Linked DNA regions of Homo sapiens. The protein of the gene in region 2 interacts with the protein of the main gene of each other region in a pairwise test. Each region holds a gene or a part of one and is shown on either strand. Other genes may lie near its edges.

What was found. The genes of interacting proteins can lie anywhere in the genome.
Region 1: the proteins of NR1H2 (region 2) and DUSP12 interact in a two-hybrid assay, tested with the Homo sapiens proteins (one large-scale study listed by BioGRID and IntAct).
Region 3: the proteins of NR1H2 (region 2) and CORO2A interact in binary tests that used the Homo sapiens proteins (3 or more experiments, as listed by UniProt).
Region 4: the proteins of NR1H2 (region 2) and NPY interact in a two-hybrid assay, tested with the Homo sapiens proteins (3 studies listed by BioGRID and IntAct).

What each region holds. Positions count from the first base shown.
Region 1 is NC_000001.11:161,755,262-161,757,738, reverse strand, and holds the end of DUSP12 (dual specificity protein phosphatase 12), read right to left. Parts: intron 954-2,477; coding exon 792-953; 3' UTR 501-791; downstream 1-500. UniProt on the Homo sapiens protein: Dual specificity phosphatase; can dephosphorylate both phosphotyrosine and phosphoserine or phosphothreonine residues. Can dephosphorylate glucokinase (in vitro).
Region 2 is NC_000019.10:50,379,457-50,381,672, forward strand, and holds part of NR1H2 (oxysterols receptor LXR-beta), read left to right. Parts: intron 1-323; coding exon 324-423; intron 424-2,216. UniProt on the Homo sapiens protein: Nuclear receptor that exhibits a ligand-dependent transcriptional activation activity. Binds preferentially to double-stranded oligonucleotide direct repeats having the consensus half-site sequence 5'-AGGTCA-3' and 4-nt spacing (DR-4).
Region 3 is NC_000009.12:98,137,138-98,140,637, forward strand, and holds part of CORO2A (coronin-2A), read right to left. Parts: intron 552-3,500; coding exon 435-551; intron 1-434.
Region 4 is NC_000007.14:24,282,799-24,286,989, reverse strand, and holds the start of NPY (pro-neuropeptide Y preproprotein), read right to left. Parts: upstream 2,801-4,191; 5' UTR 2,715-2,800; intron 1,750-2,714; coding exon 1,562-1,749; intron 1-1,561. UniProt on the Homo sapiens protein: NPY is implicated in the control of feeding and in secretion of gonadotrophin-release hormone.

The DNA.
Region 1 (2,477 bases), on a different chromosome or scaffold from region 2:
TTCTGATTCTTGTAAATGTTCAAATATCTAATTAGGTCCAATTGTAATTATTAATAATGAGTAAAATAATTCTAGTTTCTATACATCAGGTTAAAAAACTAATCTGGACGTATTACCTTTTCCAATACTCACATATTGGGCTACAAAATGACTTGATATATAGTAACTCTACATTTGTTTTCTTCATCATTAGAAACACATCTAACATTTATGTATTTCTTTATGTAGATCACTTCAAAAGGGATCTCAAACACTTTTCTAAAAATATAGATAATTGGGATTACTGAACAGTAATAGGAAAATTGCCTTTTAATCAGCGTTTTACTAATGGCCTTTCCATTTCCAAGAAAAAAATCCAGACATGTATGGGTTTACTAATGTCCCTTAAAAGAAAGAAAGTGAAATAATTCCAAAATATGTCCAAACAAATCTGCTTTATGTGTCTGGAAATAAAAGAATACCCATTTAAATATAATAGTTTCAAATTTTTGTACATAATTTTGTCTATACAGACCTTAAGATCATATAACATTCCAACAATCAAAACTTTTAAAAATATATGAAACACAGACAGTATCTGGTTATAAAAGATTTTAATATCAAATAAAATGTACATGATCAAAAGGCTTTGATTGCCATGTAAAGCATAGTTTCCAGGTTACATCAAGTGATTTTATCTTCTCCCATTTCAAATGAAATGTTGAAAGCACAAACAATCTGCCATGAATGATAAGAAGCAAAGGCAGCACATATCATCTGCAAGTTTCTTCCCAAGCTATAAAATATCATGTTCATATTTTTCCTGTTTGTGATCCCAAAACAGGCAATATTTTCATTTCATCCACTCTATTCTTATGTATTTGAAAAGCAGGTGTTATCCACCTACCACAAGAGCACTGTTCACCATACCAGTTGAAGGAACCCAACTTGGCACTGCATTTTGGGCAAAGAAGCTGAAATAAAGCAAATGTGTTACTTTATTCATTCACTTTTATACAAAACAAATCATTATCTTTGGCAATCAATATAGGATATAAAAACAAGACACGATCCCCACGTTGAGTTTATAATCTAATCAGTGAGATAAAATGCATTGGAAATTTACTGTAATAGATAGTAGACTACAATTATCTCATAGGAAGAATGTTGTATTCAGGGAGCTTGAAGGGAGAAAAGTGAAGCTTGAGATTTGATTAAGGAAGGTTTCATGGATGTGGCATATATATATATATATATATATATATATATATATATAGCTTTTAAATCAGTTTGTAATTTAGGACTTCAAATGAAAATGATCACGGCTAAAGTATAGAAAAGCATGTTAGGATTTTCATGCTGTATTACTAACTGTGTGTATTGACAGCATATAAGTCAGATTCTTAGCTATTTAAAGACAAACTGATATTCCAGGAAAATAGGTAAATCAAAAAAGCCTAATAAGGCAACTGCATTTTCTTCTAATGTAGTTAGTTATAGCATTAATTTTTATGTTTAGCTCTTTGATTTATGCATGGTATAAGGTAAGAGTTTTTATTTTTAATCTTGAGCTATAGAAAACTAGACATAAAACTCAGAAGCAGGCTGAGTGTGGTGGCTCATACCTGTAATTCCCAGCACTTTGGGAGGCCAAGGCGGGCAGATCACCTGAGGTCAGGAGTTTGAGACCAGCCTGGTCAACATGGTGAAACCCCGTCTCTACTAAAAACACAAAAATTAGTTGGGCATGGTGGCGGATGCCTGTAATCACAGCTACCTGGGAGGCTGAAGCAGGAGAATATTTGAACCCAGAAGGCGGAGGTTGCAGTGAGCCAAGATCACACCACTGCACTCCAGCCTGGGCAACAGAGCAAGACTCCGTCTCAAAAAAAAGAAATTCAGAAGCCATAAATAAAAAAACTAACAAATTTTATTATGTAAATATCCTTCATTTTAATATGACAAAACATAAAAAATCTGATAAGCAATAGACTGAAGAAAATAGTTGCAATATATTAGATGAACTATTAACATCTAGAATATATAGAGGTCCTACAAATGAGTAAGAAAGAGACAAAACCCATAGGCAAATGGGCCTAGGAATATGAAAGCAATTTATAGAAAAGAAAACAGTAAATGGCTGGTAAATATATAAAGATGGTGGTTGATGACTATTTTCATAAAATTCCAATTAAACATTTTAGGATTAACATTTTTTACCCCACAGACTGACAAAATGTTACCAGTTTTATAGTATCTATTATGTCAAGGATATGGAGTAACGGGTACATGCATTCAGTTACTGAAAACCAAATTTGTATGGGCATTTTGAATATCAGCCTGGAATATCACTAATATTTAAAATACATTCTTCGAGCCAGGAATTCCACTTCTAGGTACATATTCTACAGAAAAAAATCAAATATGTATACAAATAAGTATGCACAGGATTTAGAATCTTACATAAAAATGTATTTAACTTGGCTGGAGTGTGTGTG
Region 2 (2,216 bases):
TGCTGTATGCCAGGCTCTATTCCAAGTGTTGGCATATGGGGCAAAGAACAAAGCAGATCAAACCCCGTGCCCCAAACCTTGTGCTCACCTGGGGAAAGAGTATCCTAAGGAGATGGGGATGCAGCATGTGCGGAAGCCTGAAGTGGAGAAAGAGCTCGGGCTGTCTCACGTGATGGCTGCACGCTGGTGTGGCTGAGAGAACAGGGGGGAAGGGGACAAGGGATAATCCTGGTGAGATTAGACCCCCATTTGGGCCAGGAGGGGAGGGACTAGCAGCTGAAGGGTCACAGGGCTCAAGCTCCCCCTCCCGCTGCCGCCCTTAGATCATGCTGCTAGAGACAGCCAGGCGCTACAACCACGAGACAGAGTGTATCACCTTCTTGAAGGACTTCACCTACAGCAAGGACGACTTCCACCGTGCAGGTAGGGCCCAGGGGAGGCTTCGGGGAGGCTTGGCGCCCCTGCTGGCTGGAAGACCTGGGGCCAACTCATCCCTGTTGGAGTCTCTGTTTCTTTATCTCCAAAGTTGGGGTGAGGGTTGAGCCAAGGTGAGAGTGAGGTAAGAGTGCATGTGCCACGTGTGGTGGTGCACGCCAATAGTCCCAGCCACTCGAGGCTGAGGAGGGCAGATTGCTTGAGGCTATAGTGAGCCGTGATTGTGCGACGGCATTCCAGCCTGGTGACAGAGAAGACCGTGTCTCTATTTTTTAAAAAAAGCATGTATTGAGTGCCGACTCTGTACATTGGGTTGCAGTGGAAGTTGAGATGGGAGGAGCCCTGTTACCACATCAGGCATCTTGGTGGGCATTAGGAAAAGCATTCCCCGCCCCCGCCAAAACGTGGTCTCACCCAAGGGAGGCGGGCTGGAGCTCGGTCCATTGTGAAGCGGGCAGCCTTCTTTACTGTCTAGGGGAGCACTGCTTCCTGCCCTCTGAGAGCGCTAACCTGCGTGGGTGGGCTTCTGGAAGAAGGCCTGGGCAGTGAGAGGCACTGCCTAGGAAAAGGGTGGGAGGAGCATTGCTAGTGCTGCAGAGCATGCACCAGGGCCTCGCTCCCTCATTGTCCCACAATCTCTGGGGGACCTCTCTGTATTTCCCGACATCTGTCCAAACCCCACCCTCTCCCCTTCCTCTTACTCCGGCCCTTTCACCACCCGAGACGGTCCCAGTAACCCTTTTAGTATGAGCTTAGCAGGGCAGGGCTGCAGGGAAGCGTTTCTGGCAGAGGAGATTGGCGATTGCAGAGGCCCTGAGGTTGGGGAGAGCTGGTGGTTTGGAGGAACTACAGGGAGGCCCAGGCAGCTGGAGCACAAGGAGATGGGGTGGAGAGGAGGTCGGGAATCCCACCCTACCCCTTCCCAGCCGCTCCTCTGCCACCACCCTGGAACACTGCCAGGGTCCCCTTGAGGGGCCGCCTGCCTCCACCCCTGCCTGATGGGGCTGCTCACAGCACAGGCAGAAGGGTCCTGTCAGCACTTAAGGCTGCCCACTTCCCTCCTCCGCTCAGAACCCTCCGCGGCTCCCGTCTCACTGGGAGAAGAGCTAGAGTCCTCTCTGTGGCCCACAAAGCCCTTTAGGACCTGGCCTCGCTCACTCTCTGCCCTCAGCTCTCACCCTCTCCCCCTGTTCCAGCCACTCTGGCCTCTTACTGGCACCCATCCAGCATGCTGCAGCCAAGGGCCTGTGTACTTGGAGTTTCCTCTGCCCAGAACTAGGGGGACCAACTGGTCCTAGTTTGCCCAGGACCTTCCCAGTTTTAACACTGAAAGTCTCATGGCCTGGGTAGCCCCCGTCCCAAGTCATGGGAACAGCAGACGTTGGTCACCCTCACAATCCCTCATCTCCTTCGGATTGGTCACTGCTCCAGCGTCACCCAGAGCGCAGCCTTCCCTGCCCGCCTTGTGTAAAATAGAACCATGGCTCAGCAGGGCCCTTCACACTTCTCTGCACTGCCTGGTTCCATTGAACTCACAGCCCTCTGACAGGCTGGGCCTCTTCCTAATGTGTTTGTCTATGACCGGTCCCCTAGGCTCTCAAATGTAAGTGCTGGAGCCTGGCACGTGGCAGGTACTCAGTGACATTTGATGACTGAATGAACAAGTCAGTTTTGGGAATGAGTTTGGGCTTTACCTTGAGCAGTGGAAGCCAGCGCTGGGACCAGCACGATGTGACCTAGGTTTTAAAAGCTTCCCTTTGCCTTTGTGAAGGGGACAAGAA
Region 3 (3,500 bases), on a different chromosome or scaffold from region 2:
CTGGAATGGTTTTAGTGTCCACATTCATCCAAGGCCCTCACAGCCTTTTATAGCTCGCTTCCTCACTATGGGATTAAGTGGAACATCTTTTCTGATCACCATAAAAATGCCCCTCATAGCCTTTTATAGCTCCCCGAAGGATGGGTTTTCCCATCGGAATATACATTTTCACTGGGCTTTATTAGCTGGGTGGAACTATTATGCCCATTTTATATGGGGGGGAACTAAGGCCCATAGAGAGGAGGGGTGGTGCCGCTAGTCCTACAGCACCAAGAATGTCTCCTCCTCTACCTTAACTTAACACCTCCCCACACAGTGACCTCACCTCCGCGATGGAGTCAGGGGCACCAGAGCCAAGAACAGGTACCATTCCACCCCAACCACCCCAATCCCACTCTTCAGGAAGGGGAAGCCCCTCAGGGGCTGACACTCACTGTGGCATCTTCAGAACAGGAGGCGATCTCAAAATCATCAAAAGGGTTCCACTTGACATCCAAAACGTTGCCTCTGTGCCCGCAGACTTTTGGGTAGTGGGGGTCCAACTTCCCTGTCTGCAAGACAGTGCCCAGGAGGGTTGGGGAGGAGGTGGATTCCACATTAGCATCTGGACAGTCACATAGTCAGTTAGCAACCAGTCAACAGGAAAACATAAGGGACAGAGCTGGGTGTGAATCTAGGCCTTACTTCTTATTCCCTGTGGGATCCTGGGGGAGTTACTTCACTTCTCTGAGCTCTGGTGTCCTCCTCAGTAAAAGGGAGCAATCACAGGTATTTCACAGGTTGGTGTGAGGATCATGGGAGAGGAGGTATGGCACAGTGCCTAGCACATGGCAGATGTTCAATAAAAGGGCATTTCCCCTCACACACTGCTGGTAGGCATGTAAAATGGTGCAGCTCTTTTGGAAAATAGTCTGGCAGTTCCTCAAAAGGTTAACCGGTTCCCACATGACCCAGCAATTCCACTCCTAGGTCTATCTCCATGGAAAATGAAAAGATAAGTCCGCAAGAAACTGTTTCACCTAATCCCAGCACTTTGGGAGGCCAAGGTGGGTGGATCACCTGAGGTCAGGAGTTCGAGACCAGCCTGGCCAACATGGTGAAACCCTGTCTCTACTAAAAATACAAAAATTAGCCGGGCGTGGTAGCATGCACCTGTAATCCCAGCTACTCAGGAGGCTGAGGTAGAACACTTGAACCTGGGAGGTGGAGGTTGCAGTGAGCTCTGATTGCGCCATTGCACTCCAGCCTGGGTGACAAGAGTGAAACTATGTCTCAAAAAAAAAAAAAAAGAAACTGGTTCACCAATGTTCACAACAATATTCTTCATAATATCAGAAAGTGGAAACAACCCAAATGCCCATCAAGTGAAGAATGGACATACAAAATGCAGTATATTCATGCAGCAGAATACTACTGTCCCTAAAAAGAGGAATGAAGTACTGGTCCCTGCTACAGCATGGATTAACCTAGAAAACACTAGAAGAAGAGGCCAGGCACAAAAGGCCACACGTTGTGTGATTCCACTTAGATGATGTTCCAGATGTGGTTTCATTGCCTGAGCACATTAATGCATCCCCCTGGTACCTGGTATCTGGAACCCTAAGTAATGCATATGAAAAATGCAGAACGGGCTGGGCGCGGTGGCTCACGACTGTAATCCCAGCACTTTGGGGGGCCGAGGCGGGTGGATCACGAGGTCAGGAGATCGAGACCATCCTGGCCAACATGGTGAAACCCTGTCTCTACTAAAATACAAAAAATTAGCCCGGCGTGGTGGTGCACGCCTGTAGTCCCAGCTACTCGGGAGGCTGAGGCAGTAGAATCGCTTGAACCCAGGAGGCAGAGGTTGCAGTGAGCCAAGATCATGCCACTGCACTACAGCCTGGCGACAGAGCAAGATTCTGTCTCAAAAAAAAAAAAAAAAAGAAAGAAAAATGCAGAACGATACATTCATGGAGACAGAAGGCAAGATTCTGGTTGCCTCAGGCTTGGGAGAAGGGGCAATAGGGGGTGACTGCTAATGAGTGAGGGGTGTCTTTTTGGAGTGACAAAATGATTTTGAAATTAGGTGGTGGTGACAGTTTATTCACAGTATATTCACAACCTTGTGAATATACTAAGATCCACTGAACTATACACCTTAAAACGGTGAATTTTCCAACATGGCAACAGGACAAAACCCCGTCTCTACAAAAAATCAAAAAATTAGGCCTGGCATGGTGGCTCACGGCTGTAATCCCAGCACTTTGGGAGGCCAAGATGGGTGGATCACCTGATGTCAGGAGTTTGAGACCAGCCTGGTCAATATGGTGAAACCCCACCTCTACTAAAAATACAAAATTAGCCGGGCGTGGTGGCACATGCCTGTAATCCAAGCTACTTGGGAGACTGAGGCAGGAGAATCACTCGAACCCAGGAGGTGGAGGTTGCGGTGAGCTGAGATTGTGCCACTGCGTTCCAGCCTGGGCAATAGAGTGAGACTCCGTCTCAAAAATAAATAAATAAATAAATAGCCAGGCATGGTGTCGCACACCTGTAGTTCCAGCTACTTGGGAGGCTGAGGTGGGAGGATTGCTTGAGCCTGGGAGGTCGAGGCTGCAGTCAGCTATGATTGTGCCACTGCACTCCAGCCTGGGCAACAGAATGGGACCCTGTCTCAAACAAAAAACAAAACACGGTGAATTTTCTGGTATGTGAATTCTACCTCAATTACATAGAAAGGGCATTTCCCTCATTTTCCCCTTTCCTAATGAGAATTCCTGTATAGGTGCTGGGAGGGACATACAGGTCCCCCAGCCCATGCCACACAGCCCTGAAGCTATTTCCAACTCCACCAAGAGACTTGGATTTCTTGGGGTCATAGAGAAACCACACCAGTTCAGTCACAGAACCTTGGACTGGCAGTGACCAATCTGCTCATTTTGCACATCACATTGCATGGCCCTGGCAGAACAGGGACCAGGACCCAGGCCCTCGACCTCCCACATCCACCATCTAGTTCCAGGTTCTTGAGCCACCCACCAGAATGCTCCCCCAGCCATTTTTATATCTAAGTGAAAGAGACAGCTGAGAAGAAAACTGGCCAACATCCATCCATCCCACAAATATTCCCGAGGTGCCCAGGGGACAGGTGCTGTTGGAGGGGCTGATTGCAAGGTGAACACTCAACATAGTCCTTGACTTTGCAGAATCAATAGTCTTGGGATTTTTTCTAGAGGGACTTTCAAGAACAGGGTGGACTCAGGGAACACCCAACCTTCTCTTCTTCCATCACCTCCCCATCTGTGTAGAGACCACTGTACTTGTTTTTTTTTTTTTTAAGAGACAGGGTCTCACTCTGTTGTCCAGGCTGGAGTGCAGTGGTGCAATCATGATTCACTGTAGCCTCGAACTCGGGGTAAGACAATCTTCCCACCTCACCCTCCCAAGTTCCAGGCTAAGAACTACAGGCATGTGTCACCAAGCTCAGCTAATTTTTAAAATTATTTGTAGAGATGGGG
Region 4 (4,191 bases), on a different chromosome or scaffold from region 2:
GAATGCCTAGGAAAACATTTTAAAATGCTAGAGCTTTGTAAAATGGTAAAGCTTTATGGCAATCATCTTCGGAAAAATGAGTTCTACTGTGTATTATGCTACAGCTAAATAACTAACAAAGGTTTTTCTAGAAAAAACAGTTAATATCTTTTTGTTTGTACAAGTTCTCTTTGATCTGCATGACGGCATAACATAGCAAGAATTTGAATCAATTAACTTTCTGGGAAGTATGGAATATAAAATATTATTGCTTTTTGCTAATTAAAATGATCAGATTTCAAGGGATCACAAACAACTACTATTTAATTCTGGCATTTTCATGTTTTTCAGATTCTATATAAATTGGGGCTTTTTCAAAAGTGTTTTAGGATGTTAAATACCTTTTTGATGAAACAGGAAAAAGCAAACTTTATTTTAAAAGTATAAATCTTCCCCCCTTTTGGATCCTTTCCAACTACTCCCTGACTTGTAAACAGTAAAAATATGGACTAAATAAATAAATATATAAACCCCACAATACTTTAAACATATAATTTAAACATGTTAACTAACATTAATGCTTCTAAAGGGCTTATCCTTTAGATACGGTCAAATGACTAAAATCATTTAATCTCAGTAATTAAAATAAGATATTAAATGATTTAGAACTAAGATCAACCAATTTTGAAAACAAAATTTAAATCCTATGTAATTTGTAAAATAGTTTGGATTTGATTTTTCCCTTAATTGTCAATGTTGAGAGTGAAAATATGGCATTTCATTTTGACTTTCGGAATGTTCAGAATAAAGTTTACAATTTCTCAGATTCCATGTAATCCCTGAATTCATCCTAAAGTTACTGGACCAACGTAAGTTTCTTCTTAATGAAATACCAAGTGGGCACTTTCTTTTCAGAATTCACCAGCTATAAAATAGGGAGACCTCTGCATTTTAGATAAACTGTTTTCAGGCTAAATCTCTAATTATTGGGACTAGAATTTTCAAATATGGGAGTGAGACTGCAAAAAAAACACAGTGAAGAAGAAAAGAAAATAGCTCTATTTGTCTTTTTCTAAATACTGTCATTCAATTAGCCCTGGGCAGGCCGGAAAGTCTGACAATGTCTGTGGCAACCCTGCAGTTTACTCCTTGGTTTGGTTTTCTTTGGTGGTCGTTCTGTTTCTCCTAGACACCTTGCTAGCGTTTCCCCCTACAGCATTTCTCTGGCGCATTCTTGCCCCTTTCACTGGGTACTTTCGAGATTTCTGGACCGGGCCCCACTGCCGTAAGAACCACAACAAACCATAAGAGGTGAGTGAGAGGAGATTGCCAGCCTACCAGCCTGGGGAACCTGAATCTGGGGATCACGACTCTGTGACTGTAGTTGCACAAAATGGAAGGTACCCATTTTGTGTAGAGTGTGCCCTGTACAAACATTTACCTAGAGCTGACTAAGTGCCTGATACTGTCCTGCCCTGGGATAGAGCGAAGGAAAAGAAACAATCCCTTTCCCTAACATCCCCAGGATCTCCTGGTGTGCAGGCACTGGCGCTCCCGGAATCGGTCCCGCGGTCCCACCCACCTCTGCCTGGTGATGAGGTTGATGTAGTGTCGCAGCGCCGAGTAGTATCTGGCCATGTCCTCCGCTGGTGCGTCCTCGCCCGGGTTGTCCGGCTTGGAGGGGTACGCCTCGGCCAGCGCACCCAGGCACACGAGCAGGGACAGGGCGAGGGTCAGTCCGGACAGCCCCAGTCGCTTGTTACCTAGCATCTGCAGGCACAGAAGGCTCAACGGACGGGCTTGGGGATTCAGAGCACCCACGCGCAGCACCTCCCTCCTCTGCCCCCCGCGCTCCTCCTCCTGCTACCACACGCGACCCCCAATCCGCTCTCGTCCCAGTCCCGCAGAGAGAACCCAGGAGTGGCTAGCACCACCTTGCGGGCTCCGGGCGCCGTCCGGTCGGGACCTGCCCCTCTGCTCCACCTGAAAACTTCGCGCAACTTCGTTCGAAGTCTCAGGGACCAAGAAGCGCGCGGCGAGAGTGCAAGGTGGGGGCCCCGCCAGTTTAGCATTCAAAACCGAATTGGAAGTTCTTCCTGCTGGGTCACTTTTCTCCCTTCTTGCCCAAACTCTTGTCTGGGAAGAAAAGTTTCTTCTCTGTTACTTCTGGTCTGCCTAGCTTCAGGGGATCAACGCTGACAGCAGAGATCACCTCGGGGTGACGACTGCGGTGGGGAAGGGGAAAGAGAATTGCTCCCTGGGCCAGAATTGCTCCAAAGAGATTTGGAGCCCAAGAATCCAGGGAGGTGGCAGGGCGCGGGGCTCTAGAGCTCCAGGGATTCCTCACTCGATGGCGCTGCCGGGGAAACCTTCCTACCGCGCACCGCTTCCTGGGCCTCAAGGCGGCGACCCGCAGGGAGACCGCCAGCTGCCTTGGGATAGCGGTCCCGGGTTCTCCCTCCATATCTGCTAAAAGGTAACTCAGAAGAACCGCCCAGCGGGAAGGGCCCGGGAGAAGGGCCGTGGACAATCAGAGGGGAGCAGAGGAACAAGTGGAATTTAGCCGCCAAGAGGGCTGGTCCGCGTCGGGGCGCGGAGCCGGCATAGTCCGCTGGGGAGTGGAGCGCGATCATCCCAGGGCCCCAGGGCTCCACAGAGCGGGAGGCTGCGTCTCTAGCAAGTTCGCGGGCGCCCCGTTCGCTCCCACCCCTAGACAGACGGGTCGTAGCACTCACGGTGGCTGGCGCGCGGGCGTGGCTGGGCGGCAAGTACTATGCTGTCGGGCGAGCGTCTCCGAGGGGTGAGAGCCAGCGGATGGGGTGCAGAGAGCGGGTCGCGACAGGGCTTTTATGGAGCTTCCTCGCCGCGGCAGGAGGGGCCTCGGGCAGTCACGCTTGGGTGACTCCCACCCGCCACTTCCCGCCCCTGAGTGGCGGGGGGAGGGGGCTGGAACCGCAGCCGCACGAGTGTCGACTTAGGGAGCCACCCACACCCCAACCCTCCCGCCCCAGGCACTGCCTGAAGAAGCGGGGCCTGGGACCGCGTGAGCGAGGCAGCGCACTCCGAGCGCGCTGGACAACACCAAAGCCCAAGTATCTGCCCTCGGGCAGTGCCCGATCCCTGCTTTCCTTCTTTCCTTCTTTCCTTCACGCCCCGTCTAGTCCTGCCAGAGATAGGAGCAGCCCAGACGATTCTTGTCTCCTGCCAACAGGACTACCAACCCACTGGGTGCCGGAGTAGGAAGCACCTGAATCCTCTTTGTGGTGGGGCATCTCCACGACTAGCGCGGCATCCTCGCCGGGCACAACTGCGCGCTGTTGGAGTGAGGCAACTGGGCGCACAGATTTTTCCTGTACTTAGAACAAGTCGGAGGCAGCTGCCGGAAGTCTCCGGCTAGAGGGTCCCAAAGCTGCGCTCCCCACCCCACCCCCGCCCGTGGTTTCAGGGGCTTCTGCCCCTTCTCTCAGCTGGTTTTTCTAGATCAGCCTTCCTCAAGTACTCGCTCAGACGCAGCGAGCCAGGCTCGGTCGAGACATGAGTGTGGCGACTCAAAATTCCCCAGAGGGGGAACACGGTAAACCTATTCCCCCAGTTTGCTGAAAAAGAGCCACGCTTCCAGCTTCTAGAGACTCTTTTAAGCTCAATTTTAAAAATATATATTTTTTCTTTTTTGGTCCAAAGTGACGGTGGTTAAATGAACAACAGTTTCTGTCTTATTTACTAACCCTTGTATAGTCCTATGTACGTTCAATTAACGTTGAGAATGTGGGTTCTGATTAAGATGAAACATGTTAAAAACGATGAACATTAATTTGCTCATCGCGTTAAACCTGTTGAATGAATATGCAAGATACAGAAACTATTATTACAGGATCAAGATTTTATGCAGTGGACTGAGATCTGAAAGTTCCGTGAATGAATGCTCCTGTATCTTTCTAAATAAAATGGCATTTTATTTCTAAATGAAATATAAGTCTGAATCTTTCTAAATAAAAAGGCATGTTGGGAAATTAAAGCATTAAGTTCCATGTTATTTTAATGCTAAAAGGACAAGTGATTCTGTTAAACTGACACTTAGTTTTTGTGCTGTTCCAACAGCATTGAATTAAATATCAAAAACCGTGAAGCAAACAATCCTTTGCATGTATGTGTTTGTGTGTTTGTGGGATCAAACTATAATTTTGGAGACCAACATCCCTTTCACTTGGCAAC